Regions from separate parts of the Homo sapiens genome. Here region 1 is linked to region 2. The links come from fine-mapping of genetic effects on gene expression. Tissue or cell type: whole blood. Region 2 holds a variant in brackets; the other region holds the start of a gene. All regions are shown on one strand. Distances are from middle to middle.

Evidence for each region. PIP is the estimated chance that this variant, and not a neighbour inherited with it, causes the effect.
Region 1: it holds the start of CTXN2-AS1, and the variant in region 2 is fine-mapped to the expression of CTXN2-AS1 in whole blood (INTERVAL, PIP above 0.99).

The regions. Positions count from the first base shown.
Region 1 is chr15:48,188,480-48,196,586 of GRCh38, forward strand. CTXN2-AS1 (CTXN2 antisense RNA 1) reads right to left here and starts at 3,230. Exons shown (of 3, transcript NR_184082.1): 1 at 3,106-3,230; 2 at 2,454-2,582; 3 at 1-1,030. It overlaps CTXN2 (cortexin 2), which reads left to right and starts at 3,186. Exons shown (of 2, transcript NM_001145668.2): 1 at 3,186-3,374. RefSeq lists an enhancer at 3,190-3,693.
Region 2 is chr15:48,328,687-48,336,793 of GRCh38, forward strand. DUT (deoxyuridine triphosphatase) reads left to right here and starts at 2,743. Exons shown (of 7, transcript NM_001025248.2): 1 at 2,743-3,109; 2 at 3,582-3,720; 3 at 5,731-5,822; 4 at 7,360-7,404. The coding sequence starts at 2,830. It overlaps DUT-AS1 (DUT antisense RNA 1), which reads right to left and starts at 3,170. Exons shown (of 3, transcript NR_186809.1): 1 at 2,877-3,170. RefSeq lists silencers at 782-972, 2,966-3,175, 3,226-3,520 and enhancers at 2,251-2,777, 2,778-3,302, 3,226-3,520. The variant T/G (reference allele first, on the strand shown) is at 4,113.

The DNA of each region.
Region 1 (8,107 bases), 140 kb before region 2:
GGCATCTTTATATAAGAAATAGTAAGTTATATGTTGACCAACACTTTAGTAACAGCTCTGTAGTAGATATAGAGCAGGTTGTGTAAGCTGGCTACTGTTTCACATAGAATTACTGTATATAAGCTGAGAGCATAATGTCAAAGCATAGTAAAGGCAATTCTGCTTGAGGAACTTCTAAACAATGTCACCAACATATTTACCTTTCTAATAACTTGGATTGTTCTGAAAATAAATCATAGATGCTCCAGAAGTATAGATTATCCACATGTGCTTTAGAAAGGCATTCATATATTTCATGCCTTTCAGCAATTTTTTTTGTAAAAGTTGGGCAGTAGATATTGGCAAGGACCTGAAGTACAAGTATTCTGTGTTTTATCTTTTTGCAGTTCTTCATCCCTTCTTTGGCAATGGCTAATAAAACATGAATAGCATATTAATCTGTGTTTGTATAGAACTTTGTAGAACTTACCATATTATTTTGCCACGTATCTCCTCGAGGGCAGAGACCAAATCTCATTTATCTTTGTATCTCAGCATCTAGCAAAGAAAGTGGAACCTAATGGATTTTTAATCCATTATGCTTTCCTGAATAAGCCATTTTGCAGGCTTTTGAGAGCATCATTACCTTTCATATAGCTTGAAAAGGGTCAGGGTCATGCACCAACTAATACCAAGGAACCTAATTTATAATCAATGCTTTCCTTTGGCATCAATTCAGAAGCATTAATGGGAAACGCTAGCAACCTTCAAAATGTAAGCATGTGTGTATGATGTCAATGACATAACAAATCAACATTCACACAAATGATCTATGAAACAAGAAGCCTATTCTACCTTTTAAACTAAGTGAGAATTAGAACTGTAATATCCAGATTTTAAAAATCAGCTTTATGGGCATTTACCATGGAGCCATATTTCAAGTCATAAAGTGACAAGTCAAAGTCTCCAACCGTGATAATAAATTATTGGAGTGGTGCTTATACATCCGCAGCAGAATCATGTAACTTAGTTCTGCTCCCTTGAGCTCGGCCTGCAAAGAGAATGAATGGTTATAGATCATAGTATGGAAATACAGACTCAACTATACCACTGGTCCAGACAATGTCAAAATCAAAATCAAAGGAATCAAATTCATAAAAAATTGTTCATACTGTACAGACAAAATGTTTACATGATTAGTCTCTGAACTAATTTTGAATAAATTATTTTTGTAACAGTTTGGAAACATACATAGAATAATAGATGGAATAAAATGATCTCCTTTCCCACAATCTATGACTGACTGCATTGCCAGAATTCAATATCTCTAGCATCTTGCTACTTTATTTTTATTTATTTATTTATTTTGAGACAATGTCTCGCTCTGTCACCCAGGCTGGAGTGCAGTGGCACAATCTCAGCTCACTGCAATGTCCGCCTCCTGAGTTCAAGTGATTCTCCTGCCTCAGTCTCCTGAGTAGCTGGGATTACAGGCACCCACCACCACACCCAGCTAATTTTTGTATTTTTAGTAGAGACAGGGTTTCGCCATGTTGGTCAGGCTGGTCTCAAACTCCTCACCTCAGGTGATCCTCCTACCTCGGCCTCCCAAAGTGCTGGGATTACAGGCATAAGCCACCACTCCTGGCTGCATCTTGCTACTTTAATTGGTCCCAAAACTAGTAATCTCTGGCATCACCTAGGAAATTGTCAGAAAAGCACAATCTGAGACCCAACCCCACACCTACTGAATCAGAGTCTGCATTTTAGCAAGATCGTTGAAGATTCATATGCATGTTATACTTCAAGAAGCACTGTTCCAGCCCAGAGTGCTAATAAAGAATGTGGCCCTTGGCAAGTTTAAAAAGGGTCAATAAAACCATGGCCATGGAAATGTCCCTAGAATAAGATATGTCTTTCAGTCTTTCATAGAGGGCAGTTAGTTCACCTACATTTTAGGACATCTTAATAGTTTAAAATCAAAAAACAACTTTTAAAAAATGTGGTCTTATATGAACTCTCAGTTATACATTGCCCATTTTTTTGTAAGACCATTACATTTCCTAAATCAGTAAATACTCTAAATAATCATGAAGTTTGTCTTCACTTTGTTATTGAATCTAGTTGCAGTTACATTACGTTTTCAAAGTATTTTCTTTAGATGAGTGTCCCAATTCTGTATCTACATTTCCCCCAACGACTCACAGTCCAGTAGTTATAAGGTGAATAATTAAGATTGTAGGGAATCTAAAAGTGCTTGCAACTTGTAGGTTCTGGATAGAGTCGCAAAACATAAATAGAATTGGGAACCCTGTAACTGAGTTTGTTGAAACGGCCAGACCCCTAAAATAAGGATAAAGAGCAAGGTTTCTGTTGTTGTTTTTTTGTTTTCCTTTGCTTTGCTTTGCTTTACCTTGCTTTCAACGTCGGTTAGGTTTAGAATCTACATATTCAACACTGTTTAGAAAACGTACCTGGCAGCTATCTAGAGCTTTATCAGAGCGTTTCCTGGCTGCTATTTTGTTGTCTTCTAGCTTGTGTTGGGGAGACAGGTCTCACCACGCACCATTTCAGCACTACGGACAGCGCCTAGGCGCCTTCTCCTAGAAACGGAAGGGGATTCAGTTGTGTTTGTGTGGAAGAGAGAAGGGAAAGAGTAGAGGAAAAGAACTCCAAACGACACATTCAGTCTCCAGTTAAATCAATACACCTTTCACTCCTGAATTTTCCTTACCGGATAAGAAGAAACGTGTAAGAATTTAGTGCCTACTGTTCTACTGAAAACGGCTGTCACCAAAGCACAGCAAAATGCCCGCAGCACAGCCAGGAATGCAGCAAAGAGAGCAAAACAAGGATTTCAGCAGTAAATCAATTAAACCCTCACTGCCTTAGTAAACAAAGATAATGATGAAATCTAATTGCTAACCTTCAGGGTGTGTCGTGAGAAAAAAAAGGAGTGTCTATTTTTTTCTTCCTCTCTTCCTCTTTCTTTTAGCAGAACTGAAGAATAGAGCCTGTTGCTGCTGGAGCTGATTCCCTTCCCCTCCTCATCTCCCACCTCCTTTCAGTCTCACATACACACACAGATGCTGCCACAGACACACGCGAGCGCAAATATTTACACACTGCCACACCGAAGAAATCCATGCACGTTTTCCTGCAAACGCGCGCGCGCACACGTACTTCGGCGGGCGCCCACGTCCTCTGTCTCACCAACAGACACAGACATTTACACTTCTAGGCCAGGAAAGCGCTAACCAGGGCCCTGTGACTCTACGCAGGTTCCAGAACACGCCTTCTACATTTGTTACTGAACCGATCAGCGAACACAGACAAACGTGCCAACACTTAAGTCTACTGGCTGGACTTCATCTCCATGGCAACAAGCATGGAAGGTGAGACATCGCTGTCTGCGAAGTAACTTTCTCCCCCTTCCCTCCGCATTAACTGACAGCGTTCCAAATGCAGGTCCAGATGAGAAGCATGTCCTCATTCTCTTGTATTTCTGAAGCAAAAGAGCGGGGGGTGGGGCGGTGGGTGGAGGAGCCAGTAGGTCTGATAAGTTCAAATTCTAAAGGAGAAACAGCACCCCTAATGCTAGCGCCACTGCTGATGCGGCTGCCAGGCGGGGGAAAAGTGTTGTGTACGTGCAGATTGCTGATGCTTCTCCCATAATGTTTTGTAGGAAGTTTCCATGCTTCTTCGGTTTAGTGCGTAGAAAGAGACCTGGAAACAAACAACGCAGAATGATGATGATGGTCTAGGTTTCTTTAATGAGATATCTGGAGAATTTTCAGACCAGGTTTCCCAGTGCGTTGGAAGGATTGAGTGTCAGAGTCCTTGAGCCATCCAAAGATTCTCTTAAGAGAGAAATTCTCTTAAGGTTGAAATCTGAGGGTTTAGGGGTGGATTCTGGCAGATCCTAAGGTCTGGGATCTCTGGAAAGCCCTGAAATTTATGCATTTCACCATGATGAAGACATCTAGGTTTGTAATTTAAGGTTTTCCTTTTATTCCAACACATTCGATTCTTAATGATTAACTACCTCTGTGCAGATGTGGTTTCAATAATGCTTCTTTTCTCTCTTTTACTGGGATATAATCTTTATATTTTGTGTGGAGTGTGTATATGTATGGAATGGTTCATTATTTTTTAAGCTTGGGTTTTCTTATATGTCTTATTTCATGAAATTATGAATGTCATCATTAGCAGTAGAGATTATTATATCTAATGACCAGTGCTAAAATACTTTCTACCTAGAACATCATATTCCACTCTAATAGTTATTATTTCAGGTTTATTGTTTGGAATACCATTACTAGAGAAATAAACAAGAGGAAAAACCTGTTGATTAAAATAAAACACAGGAGGTTCTTTCTTTAATGGGTACACACTTTTTAACATTAGTTTCTGTAATTGTGCATTGTTGCATGATTAAATGATTTTATCTGAAAGGTATATTTTTATATCTCTAGTAAGGTTATTTCACAGAAGACATAAACATCACTAACAATATTCATGAATATGAAAGGCTGCATATCAGGTATAAAAATACTATCATCTTTGCTTAACTGCTTACGGAGATATGATTTGTAAGTACTGATCATAGGAAGACTTTGTTTTTTACTTACTAGTTGCCAATTACAAAGCAACTTCATGAGATTTGGGCTATTTGATATCTACAGGAACACCCCTGGCCCAATCTTATGACTCATCAGTACTTAGAAATCTTGGTGCCTGACAATTGCCATGAAGGAAATGTACTTTCAACCAAGTTACTCATTGCCAAAGTACCTAACCATTTATTCCAGTGAATATGGCTCAAGACAATATTTTATCATTTGCATCAGTAGTATTAAAAGACACTTAAATATTTTAATCATTATATATATTGATCCTGATATTTAAACTGTGCATTGTTTATTTTACCCAATTTTGTGGTATAATATATTTCAAATAACTTTTACCACTACCCAATTTTACATTCTACTTATTTTTGAAAGTTCATTTTTTCTTAACTATTTTTATATGGATTTTTTAATATATGGTTTTGTAACTTAATCTAAATTTTCTCAGATTTCTTTTTTTTTCTATTTCCCAATAAACAGGATATTAAAATGATGCTTCTCTGGAGCTAGGCATTACAGTGTCTGTTGTGAATAGCTCTTCCAGCTTTTAGAGAAAGTGAAAATGCATATTTTATCTATAACTGTTGAGTATTTTGAACACCTTAGTAATTGTGAATGAATCAGTTTTATAACTGGGGACTTTTGTTTTTAATAATATTTTGTTATTAACAATATTTTCATATCATATTATGCTCTATATCAGTAGAAAAGCAGGACTTGGCACACTTAACAGTATATCCTCAAAAACTTTGGATTTGTTGTTGAAATGAGACAAGTTCTTCATTTCACAGAGCAAGTAAAATGGAAAGTTTGGCCAATTGTTTGAAAAATTTAGGCCTGAAATACTGATATTTCAACTGCTATATATATGGTTTAAATTACTAAAACCATCTATTTGCTGAACACATTGTTAGGCAATTGCTTAACTTTTTACTTCTATTTGCTTGTGTAGGCACAGCCTGCAGCAATGGACAAATTTTTAATCAGCCTTTGAATATTACTTTTTCAGTTGCTCTCCTTGACCTGTATTTTGTTTTCATCTTTAGTATAAAGTATATTTTATGATAAATATAAAAGCCTGTTTTCTCTTTTAAGATATTAATAAAACATTTGTTCTTTCTCAACCCATTTTTTTTTTGTTAAAAATGGAAATTTTACAGTTCTTTGAATCCAGGTAAATTTATGGAGCTCTTCCTTTAAAAACTGAATATGCAGTCATGTCTTCATTATTGAAAGTGATTCATCATATGATTTAACCTTCTGTACCGACTAAGTAAAACTTATTTTCTGTCAAGTTTATTTACCACCTGACTCCATTTTCTCATTACCCCTCACTCCTAAATCCAATTCAATTTAGTGTCCCTCCTAGACTCTCAACTAAATTTTTATAATGATGAAATAATTCTGAATGCCAACCATAAGACCCTGTTTTCCAGTGCTTAGTTTCCATCACCGCTGCAGAATTTGACACTGTTTGCTAATGCCTCATTCTAGAAGCCCTAGCCTCCTTTATTATAGGTGAACTTTCTGCTACAGATTTACTCATGATTCATCTTATATAACTCCACTAGGAGATCCTCCTTGTAGGAGAGGCATTCCTTGGAGTTCCTTGCTAGGCTTCTTCCATCTTTAATCTTTTCTGGTAACAGAAAATAGACTTTAATGGAATTACAGTAAAATTGCTCTCTGGATCAATCTAGAACAAGTCCATCTGGCTTCCTACAAGATAATATTTCAAATATTTGAGTCTACCTATTGTCCTTCTTGGTCTTCCCTTTCCTAGGCAAAACTCAACAATTCTTTTCTTCTCTTTAAGTTTTGATCTGCAAATATTTCTATGTACTGGGCTCTCTCCATCCTGTATAAAGTCTTCTACACAAACGTTATTTGACAACAATACCTTAAAATATTCTCCCCATCAAAAATTTTATGCTAGACAAAATGATCTGGATAAATTTATTGAAAGCTGACAATTGAGTGCCTACTAAGTGCCACACATGAGTACCACAAATTCACCAAGTCCAGAAATAAACTTGTCATTTACTTTTTAAGTCTATGCTTTGCTCTTATTTTCTTTGTTTTGATTAATAAAAACACTATATTTACACTTGTCCGAGCTTAATAGTGTAGAGTCATCTTTGATGCCTCTCTCTCCTTGGGCCCACTACTTTCCAAATCCTATCCCTCCTACTTTTCTAAATATCTTTCCAACCTCTACCCTCTTTCATACATCTACTCCCTAGTGGAGACCCTCATTGCTTCTCACCTGAACCATTTCTTTCCCGTGATGCTCTCTCCCTCAAAATTATGTCTATTTCAGTCTCATCATCAAGCCACTCAGCCTTTAAGCAAATAGATTTCAAACTCTTAGCCTGACAGTCAACATATTTCACAATTTGGCTCCAACCTACCTTTCCAACGCTTTGTTTCCCATACTCCCCCTTGCCTGTACCAAATTGCTCACTGTGCTCTGAAAAAATCCAGTATTTTTCTGCCTTCATATTTATTGTCATGCTTTTTTCTTCTTCACAGATTTGAATCATTCTGTCTCTCAAGACTCAGTTCAAATACAATCTCTTGCAAGAAAAACTTTCCTGATCCCTCAATGGGTGATATCTTGATTTCATCTAAACTTGTTTATCCTTTTTGGATCTTCTTTTTTTTCACCAAGATGTTGAAGATAGTATCAACACTATGTGGGTGTTGTGGGAATAAAATAAAATATGTAAAGCAGTATTTGATACACAGTAGATTTTAAATACAAGTTGGCTTCCTCTTCCTTTTTTATTGCTTTTGTAGAAGCCTATGTTGTTGTTTCTTTCCTTGTGTGTACATGGCTCTTCTCCCTTACTAGTTGGAATCCCTTTAAGTAGAGGAGTGCATGTCTACTAGAGCATACTAGCAACCCAATAAATATGTTTCAATGAAAGTATAGTGAATATATGCAGTGTTACTTTATATGTGGCCTGACACATTATAATAATGTTATTACTTTCTATCATTTGCACCCCTATTCAATTTAAGACATTTGCTTTTATAAGCCACCACCTCATATCTTTGGCTCAGGCTAACTTGACTAATTGCAGCTTACAGATTTATTTTACATGAATTGCCAAGTCATTATCTCCCCTGTTTGGATTTGGTGCATCTCCTTCCCTCCCACTTAAACAAAGGGCTTTAGAAGTGTTTCTATTAAATTTTATGTTCTAGCTTCAACCCAGAATTCTAGGCATCAGAATTGTCTTGAGTGTTTTTTCCATGTGCTATCATATTTCAGCCACACTTTGTCAAATTTAATAAGCTTCACTTCAATATCTTCAACTTAGTCACTGTTCAAAAACACTGAAAACATGCGTAGATTAAAGTGAAACCTTTGTAATACCACACTGGAGACCCACGTCCATGATTATAGAACCCGATATTTATTAGGGTAGTTCAGATCTATGAATCTACATAAAAACACTATTATCCAGGCATATCTCATATCTTCCCCACAAAGA
Region 2 (8,107 bases):
CTGTAAAATGGGGATAAAGAATTTGTTTCCTCTAGTTGTCATGATTAAACGAGTTTTTTTTTTTGAGACAGGGTCTCACTCTGTTGCCCAGACTGGAATGCAGTGGCATGATAATAACTGTCTGCAGCCTCCCAACTCCTGTGCTCAAGTGATCCTCCCACCTCTGCCTCCTGAGTAGCTAGGGCTACATGTGCCTGCCACCCACCATGCCTGGCTAATTTTGTATATGTTTTGTAGAGATGGGGTCTGCCTACGTTGCCCAGGCTGGTCTCGAACTCCTGAGCTGAAGCAATCCTCCCACCTTGACCTCCCAAAGTGCTGGGATTACAGGTGTGAGCCACTGCACCCAGCCAATTTTTTTTTTTTTTTTTTTTTTGCGACGTCGTTTTGCTCTTGTTGCCCAGGCTGGAGTGCAATGGCGCAATCTCAGCTCACCGCAACTTCCGCCTCCCGAGTTCAAGCGATTCTCCTGCCTCAGCCTCCCGAGTAGCTGGGATTACATGAATGTGCCATCACATGCGGCTAATTTTGTAGTTTTAGTAGAGACGGGGTTTCTCCATGTTGGTCAGGCTGGTCTCGAACTCCCGACCTCAGGTGATCCGCCCGCCTCAGCCTCCCAAAGTGCTGGGATTATAGGTGTGAGCCACCACGCCTGGCCTCGAGTTAATATTTTTTAAAGCACTTAGAATACACCTGACATAAAGTAGTAACAATGTGTATCTTTGTTAAAATGAGAGAGAAATCCCCAAAATGGCAAAGATAGGAAAAACAACCATGCTTTTCAAGTACTGACTTGCATTTTCAGAAGGTTCAAATTGGCACTAGACTTAGGTAATTGAATTAATCAGCATGACTGATAGGATAACTATAGTCTGATAAAGAAAACACCATGAAGGGCAGGGTGCGGTGGCTCACGCCTGTAATCCCAGCACTTTGGGAGGCCGAGGTGGGCGGATCACCTGAGGTCGGGAGTTCGAGACCAGCCTGACCAACATGGAGAAACCCCATCTCTACTAAAAATACAAAATTAGCCAGGCGTGGTGGCGCATGCCTGTAATTCCAGCTACTTGGAAGGCTGAGGAGGAGAATTGCTTGAACCTGGGAGGAGGTTGGGGTGAGCCGAGATCGAGCCATTGCACTCCAGCAAGGCTCTGTCTCAAAAAAAAAAACAAAAACTATGAAGTAAATTATGGTTGAAACATGTTTAGTTCTTAACTGCAGTATCTTGCATTTAAGGTGTATGTTCATAACAAGTTATATTTCTATTGTCATAAAGAACGTTCTATTAAATGCTTACTGGCTCAGAATCCTATTACTTTTTGCCAGTTAGATTATGGCCGTTTCTCTTTTAGTCTAAAATAAACTCAGCTGAAAAGTAACAATAAACACTTTATGTATACAGATTAACAACAAAAAATAGAAGGTAACCTGCTTGGTGTTAGATATTGTAATAAGCCAAACAAGTAACTTTTGTGTAAACACTGAAGTAAGTGCTTTGAAGAATTCATAAAAGTTTATGACTCTAATTCATGTGAGAGATAAAATGCATATACATCAGAAGATTACACAATGAAAGTATATGGCTAACGACTAATGAATGATATAGTAAGTGTTAAAAGAGATAAGATGGGGCAGAGGTCACTACTGATTGTAAAAAGTTTCATGAATGAAGCGAGACTTTTATCTGGGTCTAGGAAAATGAAGTCGTTACAATCATTACATCTTAGTACAAGCAAGGAATCAAATAGTATGTCTCTCATGTGAACATTTTAAGTAAATAACTGGAGAAAGTACTTCAACAAAATAAGGGAGCAAAATAATGTTGGCTCAAAATGAGGTCGAAAAGTTGCAGGGCTCGGATCGTGTTGCTAAAGGCATAAATTTGGGAGTCCTCAAGCTGTAGCTAATAGTTAACGTCCAGAGAAGGTAGTGTATATTCCATAGCCTCATGCAAAGGAATTCCAACTACGAAGACGAACCAGTTAAGGAGACCGAAAAGGGGGGGCCTGTATGGAAAGGCATAGCAACGAATGTAAAATTTCCCCAATAATACTCTAAAACTGCCCCACAGCTTTTTTAATTTTGAAAATTCAAAACCATTCAATTCAGCTCGCAGATTTTTGTGAGAAATAAGGAGATACTTGCAGCTCAGAAAAAATTATTAACAACTATCTAGAAAGTTACTGCTTTATCCCCCACTGTAAACTATACTACCACGACCCGGGATCCTTGTTCGACTCCTAGCCAAGGGGTTCCCACTGCGTTTCTGTTGGGTTATCCCAAACCTGTGATAGGATAGTAGCGCCCTCCCTGCCTCCGGTCGAATAAACACTACAACGTCTGACACTCGGTGCTGAAAGGAAATCGGGCGCGGTGTCTTGCCCACAGCTTGGGGAGCGGCCCCGGGCGCAATAACTGTCACCGGCGCCGAGATGCGGTTCCGGCGCTTAGGGCGCCGCTAAACTCAGAGCCCGGGAGTCATGGCTGCGGGCGGTGCCGCCCCAGGTAAATCAGTCCAGGAGCAGGGCCCGGGCCTGGCGTACACTCTCGGAAAAATGGGGGCCAGAGCAAACAAGAAGAGCGAAAGCAAGAGGGCTAGGCAGCCAGAGGCGGCAGCAAGACTCAAGACGCCAACGGCGCCGTCTTCCTGGGGCCCCAGGGCCTGCGCCATCCCTGGGCTGCCGGGGCACCGCCTCTCCACGCCCCTCGTCCGGCGGCGGCTGCGACTGCTTCCGAGGTCATGTTCCCAGGACGGGCGCGTCTTCAGGGTGGAAGCCTGGCGCACGTCCGGAGGTGCCGAGGACCCAACCAGCCCAAACTCTGGGGGAAATGACTCCCCTCTGCCCTCGCCCCGCGCTCTGCTACCATTTCCTTACGTCTCTGCTTCGCTCAGCGATGCAAAACGCGCGAGGCGCACGGCAGAGGGCCGAAGCCGCGGTACTCTCCGGGCCAGGCCCGCCCCTCGGCCGCGCCGCGCAGCACGGGATTCCCCGGCCGCTGTCCAGCGCTGGCCGCCTGAGCCAAGGCTGCCGCGGAGCCAGTACAGTCGGGGCCGCTGGCTGGAAGGGCGAGCTTCCTAAGGCGGGGGGAAGCCCGGCGCCGGGGCCGGGTAGGAAAGGCGGGGGAGGGGCTCCGGCCGTCTGGAAGGAATCCACGCGGCTTGAGGCTGTGGGGGAAGTAGGGTGGCGAGCGGTCCTTCTGCGCGCGGGGGGCGGGGGGGGTGGGGTGGTCCATTAGGGTCCCCTGGCGAGGGGGCGGCTTTCTAGTGTGTGAGGGCGACGCCCTAGAAGCTCCCCTTCAAAGTTGGCCCCACGCGCTGAATGTGGAAAGTTGACTGGGACCCAGTAGTTTCCCATCCCAAACCTGCTTTCCGAGAAGGGCTTCAAACCCAAAATGTGAATCCCGCCTCCCCTCTCAGCCAGAACTGTGGACTCGTCCCGGGGAGGGGCGGTGGGTGGGGCGGGGCTGGCGGGAAATTTCGGTTTTGGCGCGCTCCCTGCGGCGACGCTCATCGTGCGCTCTCCTCTTCCCCCGGTGGTCTCCTCGCTCGCCTTCTGGCTCTGCCATGCCCTGCTCTGAAGAGACACCCGCCATTTCACCCAGTAAGCGGGCCCGGCCTGCGGAGGTGGGCGGCATGCAGCTCCGCTTTGCCCGGCTCTCCGAGCACGCCACGGCCCCCACCCGGGGCTCCGCGCGCGCCGCGGGCTACGACCTGTACAGGTGAGCGGGGACCTGCCGGCGAGGAGGCTGGGAAGGGCCGGCCGTCCGCTGCCACAGCTAGAAACAGTCACCGGAGAGATCACAGGAACACACTAGCTATAAATAGGATTTCTGCCTTTTTCGTGTTTAAAATTTTAGCTTTCATCTTTGGCATAAATTAAATAGAGATTTGGGCAAAGACTGCAGAATAAGTAAAATAGCTATACGGTGTCTAGCAAGGCGTTACTTTGCAACGTTTATTGTGCCCTTCCTAAATAGAAGATAGAGAGGAAGGCCCATGGTGGCTTTCGAGTGGCCCGAGGGTGATGCTGTGCTCAATAGAAAAACCAAGGTGAGAGCCTAGATGTGAGCGTGAAAATACCTAAGAAGGATGAACGAAGATGCATCTGCCT[T/G]AAAAAGTTATTTTCTATACATTCATCCGGCCCAGGGCGGAATTTGAGAAGGCATCTGAAAACGAAAGGCAGAGCTGCCTGTAATCTACCACACTTTCATCTCTACAGCACGTTTTACCTGTACTAAAAACTTTCCGTATGCTGTTGTATTTAGTCCTCACAACAATCCTTAACTAGATAAGTGTTACTTTTTACACAGGCAGGAGTTTGTGAAGAGCTGAATTGATTTCCCCAGAGGCTTGAAGATGATATAATTTTTTATCCCGAATTTTGGGCTTTTTTTTTTTCATCTGACTACTGTGCCCAGTTCTTAGAACCATTAAGGTAGGAGAAAAGTAATGCTGAGAGGGAAGGAGATTTTATACTAAATCCCAAGCATTGGGATTTATTTTAAAGTATCTCAGATAATTCAAACATGAGAACTATTAGTCTAAGCACAGGAGAAGAGAAAGTAGTGCCTGATGATAGCAACAGAAAAAAAAGGAAAAGGAAAGTAGGTATGGACAATTGTAGCTGGAAAAACTACAGTCTCTTAATTTTGATGAATAAAAGTAGAGTGATATAGTTTGACTAGACCTTTCCAAAGTATATTTTGGAGCACTTTCTTGAGTCCTAGGGGAGTCCTTGATTTAAGATACCTTAAGTAGACTCCTAATAAACACAGGTGACTTTCTGTATACTGAAATTGACATGGAAATAATGGATCAGCAATAAATTAGGGCTTAACTGTTTAAAGAGGGATTTCAGTGAAAGAAGGGGTAGTACTGCTTTACCAGAGTTAATTAAGGTCTCCAAAGTAAACTTCCGGTTCTGCTCATTGTAAAATCTCTTAAATTTCTACCCAGGAGAGGGCCACAGTAATATCAAGAGTAGCAGCATTTGCTATGTGGACTTTAGAGGAATTCTGTTCCTAAGCAAGGTCCATCTCCAGGGGCCGTTCACGGTGATCAGCTGTCTCCCTCAGCCAGGAAATTCATAGCCTAAGCTTGGTAAACTACCAAGCCCTGCCTGACAGATACAACACAGTTCTTTATCTCTTATTTTGTCCACCCGTTTTTCTCCTTTCCTTCTGCATATTTTCCCTAATCACACAGATCATTGTGAGAATAAAATGGGTTAATATATGTAAACCAATTAGAACTGTTCCTGGCACACAGTAAAGGCTTAATCAATGATAGCTAGTATTATTAGTAGTATTTGGCCTTTTTTCTTTGTTCTTTCTTCATTTTTTTCCTTTTCAAACTATGGTTGTAAAGCATCCACCTTTTGAAAGTTTGCCTTTCTGCCCTTTCACGCTGATAAGTACCTCAGTTTCCAATAAACTTTTGTTCAGGGGCAAACATTTACAATGTTGACATCTCTTCACACCACCAAAAATATTCATGGAGAATTATTTTATCTAAAGCTGTCTTTTTAATAATAAAATAGCCACCTCTACCTTCTTCATAAACTTTTAAGATGAATTGGTAATTCATCATAGCAAGGTTGATTTTAGAAACTAAAGTTGCATTAATTCATTAAATACACTGAAAGTAATTTTGTATGCTTGGTCACAAAGAAAATATAAAAACAATTTTATAAATAGATTTGCAGTTATTTTCTTTCAATATTTTCTTAGTGCCTATGATTACACAATACCACCTATGGAGAAAGCTGTTGTGAAAACGGACATTCAGATAGCGCTCCCTTCTGGGTGTTATGGAAGAGTGGGTAAGTCATTTAAGAAACAGGTAACTATTTGTCAAGTTCTCCTTTGTGATAGATTCTTCATGTTTCATTTGGGGTAATAAGCAGGCAATATTGCTTGGGCTGTGTCCTAAAAGAAGCACCATTTGTGATAGCAAATGCACTCTTTGAAAGGCTTTATTTACATCTCTGCTTTGCCTCTTTTTGACCCTTTTATTTTTCTCCTTCCTCACTGGAGCTTTTAGGCTCACACTGGCCTAGAAGGCTGTTCTCAGAACATGGCATTTTATATTATGAGAGTAAAACTTCTGACCTGTTGGTCCCAGAATGTGTAAGCCTACTTAACCTTTTCTTGTTTGGCCATGGGGTTAGGGTAAGGGATACTCTTCAGTGTTGTAGAGGCACTGGGAGGAGCTAGGACAAAATGGAGTACACGTCAACAGGTTTGATTTTTCTGGAGCGGATCAGTTGTTACCAGACAGTTCTTTGCAAGAGCGTAAGTTCTTTTTGACTAACTTCAGAGTAAACATAAAGGAGGCAATGGAGCTGTGACGCCCTCCTCCAGGGAAAGGAGCTAGACTGGCACTATATTATTAGCCATGAGTGAGGAAACTGCCAGTACTTCAGCCCTTAAAAGATAACAAGATGGGCTCTCATCTCATCTCTTGAGCATCATTGACTCCATTTTTTAGAATTTTTTCAGGGGAAGGGGCAGGAGATGGAGTGAAATAAAGGTTAGTACAGAAAGAGGCAGCATTATTGACAAAGTGCCTGATTTAAATTATTCTAAAATAAAATGCTGGAAGTTAGGATAATTAATTATAGGCCTGATGCTTGAGTCTGCAATAATAAGGTGTAACCTTAGCTTTTTATTTTTTTCATTTTTTAGGATTAAAAAGTATACTAGCATTGAATCATTGAGACTTAGTTTTTGGCATTTTTACTTAACTGATATTAGCCCATTTATCTTACTCTGGTTCATGTGTTTCCTACAGGCATGTCTTTTGGCATCTGAATCATGAATAGTGGGGTCCCAAGTTGTAGGCTATGGTCTGCTACTATTTGGTTAGGTTTGTTTCCCTCTCCCTTCCTCTTCCTTTCCCTTCCCATCTGCATTGTACATGTTGTGGTGTCCCATCTTAAAACCAAAGTCTTCTTCCTCAGTAGTGTGTTCCTGCTGGCCATACTTCTCTTTCTTCCCCTTTGAGGCTTAACTTCTTGAAAGAGCAGCCTACAGTTGTTCCCGCTTGCTCACCTTTCAGCTCATTCTAGCAGTCCTTCTCCCCTGTCTGCAGCACCACAAATTCTGACTGAAGTCACATGGGAGTGGTTTAAGTTAGTTTTGAATTAAAACCTTGTGGAATTTTTCTAAACTAGTCTTTCCAACTTTGGTAATGCAGTATGATGAATATATATTCTTTAATTCAAAACCATGTGCTAAAGTTAAGATGAAGATATAGATATTATAGGTGAAGAGAATGACATGCTTAAATTGCATCAGTTATCTCTGATATAGCCCTTCCCCCTTAAAATAACCAATGTCTCCTTTTTTGTTTTTTAGCTCCACGGTCAGGCTTGGCTGCAAAACACTTTATTGATGTAGGAGGTAATATATTTCCTTTTTTATTCTGTAAATGTTTGCAAGTATTTACTTTGTCTTTAAAAGGTAATATTCAAATGACAGATTTTATTTTTAAGAAAAGAAAATGATTAGAGGAAAGCTTGTTATAATAGGAGGAAAAGCTTTGTGGTTATTTTAAGTAATTATATTTTGTTTAACTACTAACTTAATTTTTAAAATAATGATTACCTAATTAATAATGACAGATTTAATGATATAATAATTAAGTAATTATTTAAGCAACAAAAGTTCTAGAAAACACAGGTCTATCTTGTAAGAATTTTCTTCATAAGAGAGCTATCTGTCTTTAGCAAAATTTAAGAAGAAAATCTTTCCCTGAAGTCAGGAGAGAAAACACTTTTCTCTAAATTTGTTAAGACAGTCCTCTGTGTTACCTGTTTCCCTTATAATAAAGCCTTTCTCATGTTTGTCTCAAAGTTAACCCTACCTCATGTGGTACCTTTCATGAAGAACCCTCAGTGTCCTCTGCTAACTACTCTTGATACAGAGCTACTCCTCTTATTGTAAGGAAATTTCTACTTTCCTGATGTGGTTTCCTTGTTTCAGGTCCGCTCCAACTGGGATTCAGACCCCACTTATGTGGTCCTTACATACTGACCCTTTATCCCATCAGTAGTGAATCTTTCACTTAACAAGATACCTTGGCCCCCACATAAGTAGGTGTGCT